Linked DNA regions of Homo sapiens. The protein of the gene in region 3 interacts with the protein of the main gene of each other region in a biochemical or structural test. Each region holds a gene or a part of one and is shown on either strand. Other genes may lie near its edges.

The links.
Region 1: the proteins of CDC27 (region 3) and PPP5C form a complex in vitro, tested with the Homo sapiens proteins (one study listed by BioGRID).
Region 2: the proteins of CDC27 (region 3) and MDC1 form a complex in vitro, tested with the Homo sapiens proteins (2 studies listed by BioGRID).

The regions. Positions count from the first base shown.
Region 1 is NC_000019.10:46,388,281-46,391,475, reverse strand, and holds the end of PPP5C (serine/threonine-protein phosphatase 5), read right to left. Parts: intron 3,069-3,195; coding exon 3,028-3,068; intron 2,924-3,027; coding exon 2,745-2,923; intron 1,426-2,744; coding exon 1,344-1,425; intron 1,193-1,343; coding exon 1,130-1,192; 3' UTR 501-1,129; downstream 1-500. UniProt on the Homo sapiens protein: Serine/threonine-protein phosphatase that dephosphorylates a myriad of proteins involved in different signaling pathways including the kinases CSNK1E, ASK1/MAP3K5, PRKDC and RAF1, the nuclear receptors NR3C1, PPARG, ESR1 and ESR2, SMAD proteins and TAU/MAPT.
Region 2 is NC_000006.12:30,707,282-30,710,781, forward strand, and holds part of MDC1 (mediator of DNA damage checkpoint protein 1), read right to left. Parts: intron 1,077-3,500; coding exon 285-1,076; intron 174-284; coding exon 103-173; intron 1-102. UniProt on the Homo sapiens protein: Histone reader protein required for checkpoint-mediated cell cycle arrest in response to DNA damage within both the S phase and G2/M phases of the cell cycle.
Region 3 is NC_000017.11:47,154,796-47,158,295, forward strand, and holds part of CDC27 (cell division cycle protein 27 homolog), read right to left. Parts: coding exon 3,411-3,500; intron 2,590-3,410; coding exon 2,435-2,589; intron 2,330-2,434; coding exon 2,118-2,329; intron 70-2,117; exon of another isoform or gene 1-69. UniProt on the Homo sapiens protein: Component of the anaphase promoting complex/cyclosome (APC/C), a cell cycle-regulated E3 ubiquitin ligase that controls progression through mitosis and the G1 phase of the cell cycle.

The sequences.
Region 1 (3,195 bases), on a different chromosome or scaffold from region 3:
CGCAATCAGGACCGCGGACGCCTCATGTCTGCCTGGGAGGTCTCCAAAGGGCCAAACACTCCCGGACTCGGCCCTGCAGGAGTCATTTGCTGTAGACCATCCCCCAGTGCCACATACCACTGGAGAAAGCTGAGTCCAGAGGAGCTCAAACTTGAAAACACAATCTCTCTGGAGGGTCAAGGCCTGGCAGGGCAGCCTGAATGGAATCCAACGTTACCTGTGACTAAGAGCCAACTGGGAGTGAGACAAGGGTCCTCTGGTCTCCCTGGATGACGGGAGATGCGCGCCTCATCGTGTGATGTCAAGAACCACTGCTGGGCCTACCCTGAGCAGGGAGCAGGGAGCGGCACTGTCATGCTTGTTGCTGGAGCCAGCAAAGGATGAGGCTATGCCTCAGCTTCCGCTCCGCTCCACTCAGTGCTGGCCTCATCGCCCCACCCAGGGGGCAGAACTCTCCCCAGGAGCCCACGGTGCTGGGCAGAGGCAGAGGCCACTTGGGCGGTCAGCCCAGAGCTGGGTGGGCCCGGCCAGCGGGACTTTGCGGCCTCCCCACCCTCCGGATCTCCTGAGCAGGCGTAACCCAACCCGGGCAGCTCCTTCGGCTCCACCATCCAGAGACAAGCTGACTTCCGATAATGACTTTATTTTAACATATTTAATTACAGACATAAAATAGCTGGGGAGGGGGGTGAGCCCCAGCCTAGCCCCACCATGGGGCTATAGGAGGGGAGGCGCAGGCGGGGCCCCCCTGCTGACCCTCTCTCTGGGGGTCTTCCTATGGCGGGGCCCTATTGCTTGAGTGGGGGAGGAGCCATGCAAATGAGGGGGGCAGGGCAGCCACTCGGCCCCACCCCACCCCGAGGACGGCCTCCCCACAGAATGCCCAGGCTGTGCCCCCAGCCCCAGCTGCTCCACCTCCTTCCTCTCTGTCCAGGGAGCAGACCCTCTGGCCAGCCCCTGACTCTGCCCCTACCCCCTCTGCAAACCTAAAGGGGAATAAATACAAACTTTACAAAGTAAAAGGGGGTCCAACATTGCCCTGGGGCGGGGCCTGCTCTGCCCCTAGCCCAGGGCCTGGGTCCGGTGGGATTGGAGGGGCCCTGGGATGCAGGCCGCCCCGCCCGTCACCTCACATCATTCCTAGCTGCAGCAGCGTGTTGGCATAGGCCATGGGCTTGACGTTGGGATGAGGCTGTGGGACCAGGGCAGGTGGGATGGACAGAAGTCAGAACAGAGCCCCTGAGCACCCACCGGCAGAACCTACCCCTGCCCCTTACCAGGGTCTCAGCCTCCTTGTCCCCAGGCCGGGATGGAAGGGGCAGGGGCCCTGAGGGGTGACTCACCACTGCTGTGAACTGGTGGAACTGAGGCCGTAGGTCAGAGCCCTGGAGGTGGATGTAGGAGGCTTTGTTCCCCATCTGGTCGCTGCAGGGACAGGAGCAGAGTGGACAGTGTGGTCAGGGCTGGGTGGGGCTGGTGGGTTAAGAGAAGGAATGGCTGGGCAAGAAGGGACAGAGGGAGAGGGAGGGACAGAGCCACAACAGACACAGATGGACAGAGAGACAGAGATGGGAAAGACGAATCCAGGGGAAAGAATGGGAGGGGCAGGAGGATGGGGATGGGGAAAAGAGGGTGGGAGTGCAGGAAGCAGGAGCAGGAAGGGGCAGGGCATAGCTCATGGAGGTGGATGCTCGCCAGACCCCACTAGGAATCTGACCACGCTTCTAGCTTTGCCCACCCAGAGATGCAGGGAACAGAGGAACATGTCACACGGCACCACGGGGATGCAGTCAGCCTAGTCCAGGACACAGGTGACTCGTACAGCAGGCAGCAACCTATTCTTCAACAAATAAATGATGCGGGTGGGGAGAGACAGGGAACTCACAGGCAAAGAGACTGAAAATGTGGTCCTTGTTTAGGTCCTGTCTGGAAGAAGTCAGCTGGAAAAGACACTTAGGAGAGACCAGGAGAAAGAGAACTTGGCAGGATTCGGGTGGGGGCAAGGGATCAACACTGTGTGTGTGTGTGTGTGTGTGTGTGTGTGTGTGTGTGTGTGTGTGTGTGTGTGTGTGTGTGTGTGTGTGTGTGTGTGTGTGTGTGTGTGTGTGTGTGTTTTGAGATGGAGTCTTACTCTTGCCCGTGTGCGTGTGTTTTGAGATGGAGTCTTACTCTTCCCCAGGCTGGAGTGCAGTGGTGCAATCTCAGCTCACTGCAACCTCTACCTCCCGGGTTCGAACAATTCTCCTGACTCAGCCTCCTGAGTAGCTGGGATTACGGGTGTGTGCCACCACGCCCTGCTAATTTTTGTATTTTTAGTAGAGATGGGGTTTCACCATGTTGGCCAGGCTGGTCTCAAACTCCTGACCTCAGGTGATCCGCCCACCTCGGCCTCCCAAAGTGCTGGGATTATAGGCGTGAGCCACCATGCCCAGCCAGCACTCAAAAGTGTAAACACGATATTGTGGTTAAGAAAAAGATCCCTTTCCTTCTGAAAAGTGCTGGGCAATCAGTGGGAGAAAGGTGAAGTGCCAGGGGCTTGCTGTAACACAGGGCAGCTGGTCAGCACTCACAGGCTGGCCCCACTGGTGCTGCATGGGTGGGTGACACATACGGGGGTGTTCGTCATGTTCTTTTATCTGCTCTTGCCTGTCTTTGAAATGTTCCATCATAAAAAGGCAAAACAAAAACCAAGACAAAAACCCGTGGCTTGGTAGAGGCCCTGGGCTGGAAAGGCAAAGACATACCAGTAGTTGGGGGCAGAGAAGACGGTGACACAGCGGCCTCCGTGAGCCACCTCGTAGCCCTCGGCCTTGACTTCGTGGCTGCGGATGATATAGTCCAGGTTGTTCTCTTCCAAGAAGGCCTTGGTGACGTCAGGCCCAAACTGACAGCTCACGCCCCGCTTGCTGATCGAGCGCCCGTTCTGAGGGTGGGCAGAAGGGAGAGACAGGGGTTCAGGGTGACTGTCTGCCTCCACCTGCTGCCACAGCCCACACCCGCCGGCCCTGCACCCCACCCTAGACTCACCTGTGGCTGTGGATCTGACCAGAGCAGGTCACACATGGGCCCTGGTGGGGAGCGAGGGAAACATTAGGGACTCGTCCACCTCCCCGGGGGTGGTCACTCACAGGCCACCTCCTGGCCCGGCCAGGTGCTGACCCCACAGCCCAGCCTGGGTGGGTGTTGGGCAGGGGA
Region 2 (3,500 bases), on a different chromosome or scaffold from region 3:
AATAATGAGAAAGGAATAGATTAAAGTGAGGCTAGGTGAAAGAGCATTGGAGAAGATATAGAGATGACTTGTGGAATAGGAGGTAGAAAAAGTAGCTCTCACCCTGGAAACCTTCTCAGCAGCTCTGATCCTGGAAGCCTTCTCAGCAGGTGGCATCTTGCAATTCAGGAGGCCTAGACAGAAAGTAAACACAAAGGTGGCTGAGTTCCAAGCAGCTGGTTGCCCAGGGGTTGATTATCACGAGGCCTGTGTATCACCTTGGGTTCCCCTCTGCCTTCACTTACCTTTCTGATGCCTCCTGGGGCTCACTGGGGATCCCCTTCCACCTGACTGGCTCCCAGAAGGTACGGGGGCTGAGGTAGGTCCCGGAAGGTCCCCCGCCCCCACCCCAGGCTCTGGTGTTGGGCTGGAGGCCTGCCCTTTCTGGTCCTGGCTCCCTCCCTCTGGCTCCCCTCTCTGTGTATCTCTCTCCAGGATCACTTTGGGCACCTTCTCTTCTAACTCGGCTGGATCGCACTCTCTGTTTGCTACTGGTCTCTCTACTTCTCTCTCAAATGCTTTGCTTGGAAGGGTCTGCTTCTGTACTTGTTTCTCTTGTATTTCCTCAGATGTCTCAATTTCTACCTTCAAACTCTCCCTATCTCTTTCAGGACTTGCACTTTCCCCATTTTTGTCAGATTCTTGTCTCTGGGTGTCTCTAGCTAACAACTGTTTTTGTTCTCTGTCCTGTTTCCCCTTGGTTAATTCTTCCTCTCCTGTCACATCTGTCTGTCTTTCTGGTAGCAGTTTCTCAGTTTCTCTCTCCAATGGCCCTCTCTCAGGGCCCACCCTCTCTGCTGTTTCTTTTGGTATACCCATGACTTTATCCACAGTCTGCCTCCCTCTGCCTTGAATCCCCATTGGCTCTGTGTGAACTGGGCTCTCTGGATGTTGGTCTCCTGGTATTGCCCTAGGTGGAGACAGGCAAGGTCCATAGGCCTCAAGGTGCGTGTCAAAAGGCTGGGTCTCAGAGTCCTCAGACTCTCTCAGACAGAATGGCTGTGTAGCCAGGACCTCCCATGGTTCATCTAGGGTACCTGGAAGGGGAGGAAGGAAGAGAGAGAGAGGGAGAGGGAGAGAAAAGAGGGAGAGGAAGAGGGAAAGGGAAGTACAGGTTGACATAATAAATATGATGAGAAAGGATTTAGATAAACTCATGAATAATAAATCTGAACAGGTTATTAAAGGTAAGCTGGGAATAAGGGTGGTAGTTATAACATTTAACGTTTGTCTCAAAAAGGTCATAGCCTTAGGCGGGCATGGTGGCTCAGACATGTAATCCCAGGACTTTGGGAGGCCAAGACATGAGGATTGCTTGAGGCCAGGAGTTTGAGACTAGCCTGGACAACATGGCAAAACCCCATCTCTACAAAAAATACAAAAAAATTAGGTGTGGGGACGGGGACCTGTAGTCCTGTAGTCTCAGCTACCCGGGAGGCTGAGGTAGGAGAACTACTTGAACCCCAAAGGTCAAGACTGTAGTGAGCTGTGATCATACCACTGCACTTCAGCCTGAGTGACAGAGACTCTGTCTCAAAAAAAAAAAAAAAAAAAAACCCAAGAGAAAAAGAAAAACATCATAGCCTAATATGAGTTCCCTGAATAGTCTCTCATCATACCACTGCATTCCAGCCTGAGTGACAGAGACCCTGTCTCAAAAAAAGAAAGAAAGAAAGAAAGAAAGAAAAACATCATAGCCTAATAAGAGAGTTCCCTGAATAGTCTCTCTCTCTCAAGACAGTTTCACTCTGTCACCCAGGCTGGAGTGCAGTGGCATGATGTTGGCTCACTGCAACTCCCAACTGCTGGGCTCAGGAGATCCTCCCACCTCAGCCTCCCAAGTAGCTGGGACTACGGCATGTGCCAAAGTGCCCGGCTAATTTTTTGTATTTGTTGTAGAGATGGGGTTTGGTCTTGAACTCTTAGACTCAAGTGATCCACCCACATTGGTCTCCCAAAGTGCTGGGATTACAGGTGTGAGCCACCATGCTTGGCTGGAATTTCCTTCTTTTTAAAGGCTGAATAGTATTCCACTGTGTATATATACCACATTTTCTTTTTTCTTCATTGACACATAATAATTGTACATATTTATGGGGTACCTGTGCTATTTTGACTCATGCATACAATGTACAATGATAAAACCAAGATAATTGGGATATCCACTATCTCAAACATTTATCATTTCTTTGTCTTGGAAACATATCAAATCTCTTCTAGCTATTTTGAAATACACAATAAATTATTAACTATAGTAACACTACTGTGGAACTGAACACTAGAACTTATTCATTCAATCTGACTGGATTTTTGTATTCATTAACCAACCTCTTTATGCATTCTGTCCCTCTACCCTTCCTAGCCTTTGGTAACCACCATTCTACTCTCTACTTCCATGAGATCCATGTTTTTAGCTCCCACATGAGTGAGCATACAATATTTGCCTTTCTGTGCTGACTTATTTCACTTAACATAATGTCCTCAGGGTTCATCCATGTTGCTGCAGATGACAGGATTTCATTCTCTTCTGTTGCTGAATACTGTTCCACTGTGTATATATACACATTTTCTTTTTTTTTTAGATTGAGTCTTGCTCTGTCACCCAGTTTGGAGTGCAGTGGCATGACCTCAGCTCACTGCAACCTCTGCGTCTTAGGCAGCAATCCTCCCATCTTAGCCTCCCGAGTAGCTAAGACTACAGGTGCATGCCACCATGCCCAGCTAAATTTTGTATTTTGAGCCACTGCACCCAGCCTATATACACATTTTCTTTTTTTTTATTATTAGAGATGAAGTCTCACTCTGTTGCCCATGTTGGAGTGCAGTGGTGTGACCTTGGCTCACTGCAACCTCTGCCTCCGGGGTTCAAATGAGTCTCCTGCTTCAGTCTCCCGAGTAGCTGGGACTACAGGCACCTGCCACCATGCCCAGCTAATTTTTGTATTTTTAGTAGAGACAGGGTTTCACCATGTTGGCCAGGCTGGTCTCAAACTCCTGACCTCATGTGATCCACCCACTTCGGCTTCCCAAAGTGCTGGGATTACAGGCATGAGGCACTGTGCCCGGCCTACATTTTCTTTTCTTTCGTTTTTTTGAGACAGAGTTTCACTCTTGTTGCCCAGGCCAGAGTGCGATGGCACAATCTCAGCTCACTGCAACCTCTGCCTCCTGGGTTCAAGGGATTCTCCTGACTCAGTCTCCTGAGTAGCTGGGATTACAGGCATGCACCACCACACCCGGCTAATTTTGTATTTTTAGTAGAGACGGGGTTTCTCCATGTTGGTCAGGCTGGTCTCAAGCTCCCGATCTCAGGTGATCTGCCTGCCTTGGCCTCCCAAAGTGTTGGGATTAGAGGTGTGAGCCACTGTGCCCGACCCCGGCCTACATTTTCTTTATCCATTCATCTGTTGATGGACATTTAGTTTGATTTCATATCTGCCTATTGTGAACAGTGCTGCAAT
Region 3 (3,500 bases):
GGTTGAAATCAAGGTGTCAAAAAGTCATCAAGGCATATATAAAGCAGCAGTATACTTAAATTAGAAGGTCTAAAAGGAAGAGAATGGCAAATCAGTCTTAGGGACAGTGAGGATCTGAGGGGCAGATTAAAAATAAGCTGTGAATGTAGACTATTCCACCCACCATAACTAAAATTTTAAAAAGCTATCAAACAAGGAACTAAACTGAGCAACAATTACTGATCTCAGGAGATTTATTAGAAATAAAGAAGAGTAGCTTTATAAATCTAAGATCCAAATGATGAGATTACTTCAAATTCTTGGAATTTATGGGATTTAGACACAACTACAGAGAAAATGTCTCTAGAGACCATTAGATAACTATAACTCTCCAGAGTTGTAATCTCATGGTCATGCTATTTTAGTAGTTCCCCGGCCTCAGGACCTGATTCATAGAATTTCTTCTAGCATATATGTATATATTTTTTTGAGACAGAGTCTCGCTCTGTTGCCCAGGCTGGAGTGCAGTGGCATGATCTCAGCTCACTGCAACCTCCACCTGCTGGGTTCAAATGATTCTTGTGCCTCAACCCCCAAAGTACCTGGGATTACACGTATGTGTCACCATGCCGGGCTAATTTTTGTAATTTTAGTAGAGATAGGGTTTCACCATGTTGGCCAGACTGGTCTTGAGCTCCTGGTCTCAAGTGATCTGCCCACCTCAGCCTCCCAAAGTGCTGGGATTACAGGCATGAGCCCCCATGCCCAACCCATTCTAGCACATAATTTTTCATTTTGATACTTTTGGATATGTATCCTCTGGGCTGAGTTCCTGTATTTATACATACATATACTTCTAATAATTTTGATAAAATATTTTATATTAATAGGTGTGACAGCTAGGTTCAGTGGCTCACGGTAATCCTAGCACTTTGGGAGGCCACAGCAGGAGGATCACTAGAGGCCAGGAGTTCCAGATCAGCTTGGGCAACACAGCAAGACCCCATCTCTACAAAAACACTTAAAAAATTAGCCAGGTGTGGTGGCATGTGCCTGCAGTCCCAGCTACTCAGGAGTCTGAGGTGGGAGGATCGCTTGAGCCCAAGAATTTGAGGCTGCAGTGAGCTATGATTGTGCCACTGCACTCTAACCTGGGTGACAGAGTGAGATCCTGTCTCAAACAAAAAAAGGTAGGTGTCAAATTTCCTCCATGTTTTGGAAAAAGGCACTTTAACAGTAACCAGTGGTGCCCTGATTATAACATTTCATGAGGCTCACCGCTATCCATTAATGCACAGCCATAAAGACAGTATTTTTTAATGTGTTTACTACCTAATTAAGGAATATTTCAGAGTTTTAAATTTTCCTCCAATTTTTTTTTTGAGATGGAGTCTTGCCCTGTCTCCCAGGCTGGAGTGCAGTGACACCATCTCGGCTCACTGCAACCTCTGTCTCCCGGGTTCAAGTGATTCTCTTGCCTCAGCCTCCCGAGTAGCTGGATCTACAGGCGCGTGCCACCACACCCGGCTAGTTTTTTGTATTTTTAGTAGAGACGGGGTTTCGCCATGTTGGCCAGGATGGTCTCGATCTCCTGACCTCGTGATCTGCCCACCTTGGTCTCCCAAAGTGCTGGGATTACAGGCGTGAGCCACTGCGCCTGGCCAGTCCAATATTCAATATCAATTTTTTTTGAGTTGGAGTCTTGGTCTGTCGCCCAGGATGGAGTGTAGTGGCTCCATCTCGGCTCACTACAACCTCCGCCTCCCGGGTTCAAGCAATTCTCCTGTCTCAGCCTCCTGAGTAGCTGGGATTACAGGCGCCCGCCACCATGCCCAGCTAATTTTTGTATTTTTAGTAGAGACAGGGTTTCACCATGTTGGCCAGGCTGTTCTTGAACTCCTGACCTCAGGTGATCTGCCTGCCTTGGCCTCCCAAGGTGCTGGGATTACAGGCATGAGCCACCGCACCTGGCAACATCACTATTTGCCAGTTTTTACTTCATTTTCTGAAAACAGAATGCCCCTGTTTCCACAGTGATTTAGAAGTTGCTGTTGTAATAATCTGCATTACTAACAATATGAGTTATCATAAGATCATTTGGTATTATAGCACATTTGAAAGTATCTTGTTTGACTTACCTTGGGGTTAATGGACTAAGAGCTGCTGGTCCTCCTAATAAACTTCGACCAGTTTTTGGTTTATTTTGAACCTGTTTAGATAATATGGAAGTTCCTGTTCCCAGTGGGACAGTATCAGGTGAAATTACAGCTGAATCAATATAAGACACTGAGGAATCTGTATTCAAGGAGTACTTTGAATTGGAAGATTCTAAATTCAATCTGTTTAATTCCTGAAACAGAAAATTTCTACCAAGTCATTCACAATATATTATTTAGTTCAGATCATTCTTTGTAGTTTTCATAATATTTTGAACACTAGAATATAAGACACTTACAATTGTGTCCTGGGGTGTTTCCGTAAGAACTGTCTCAGGCTGTCTGTGAGATAAACTATGATTAGGTACTTGTGTTGTGCAAGAGTTGGGCAGACAGTTGCTAAAGTTCTGTAAAGATGTGAATTTAAATGTTTGGTCAGGATCTGGCTTTTCACCTGTGAAGACAAAAAAAAAAAAAGTTTGTCTCTGAGGAAGTGAGGAATACATGTTTTTCAAGTATGCATAAATCAGTGGAAACAGGAAATAGGCCTTATCCAAACTTTAAAAATCTCCTGTCCACTTCTGCTAATCAAATTTACCCCCAAAAAACCCATCTATCAATATATCATAAAAGTTTACCAGTAAGATAAAGCTGTAAATGAAAATAAACTACAAGAACACTAATTTTAAACATAACAAATCGCAGAAAAATGCAGATTTCTGTGTTTGTTTTAAAGCTGAAAATAACTAGATCTCATTTTTCTCAAAGTAGGAGATGAGGTTGAAGAGTTAAAACCCATCATATTTTACAGTAAAGGTTGAAGCCCTTCTATATATACATAGATGCAACAATGCTGAAAAATGGTCCTTTATGTATCCTAGGCCAAATATACTGAGAAATTCTCTCCCTGTACTGTTCAGGTCTTGTAAGTTTCAGGCATTTATTAATTGCATTAGAAATTTTATTAATTTTCTTATTCAGAAAGCAATTTTGCTAGTGTTAAACACACAATATAACCCATTCTAGAGGACACCAGATACTTGAAAATAGATTGGTTCAACAGAAGAATCTACTGGATTTAATCTTTGTGTAATTTTCAGTTATATGATTCTTGAAACATACCGAAGATTCTAACTTATTTTTTATTCTCAATTTTAACTTTGAAAAATATTTTTCTTGGGGGTAGATGATCTGTATTGCTCTCCAAAAATTAAGTAGCAGGAAAAAAAGAAGAGGAGATGGGAACCCACCCACCTCTCAACCCCACCCACCTACCTATTTCACATAATGATTCAAAGGGAGACCAGAGGAAAGGATTTAAACTAAGGCTCTTTTGGTAACATTCTGATCCTTTGGCAAGCCGAT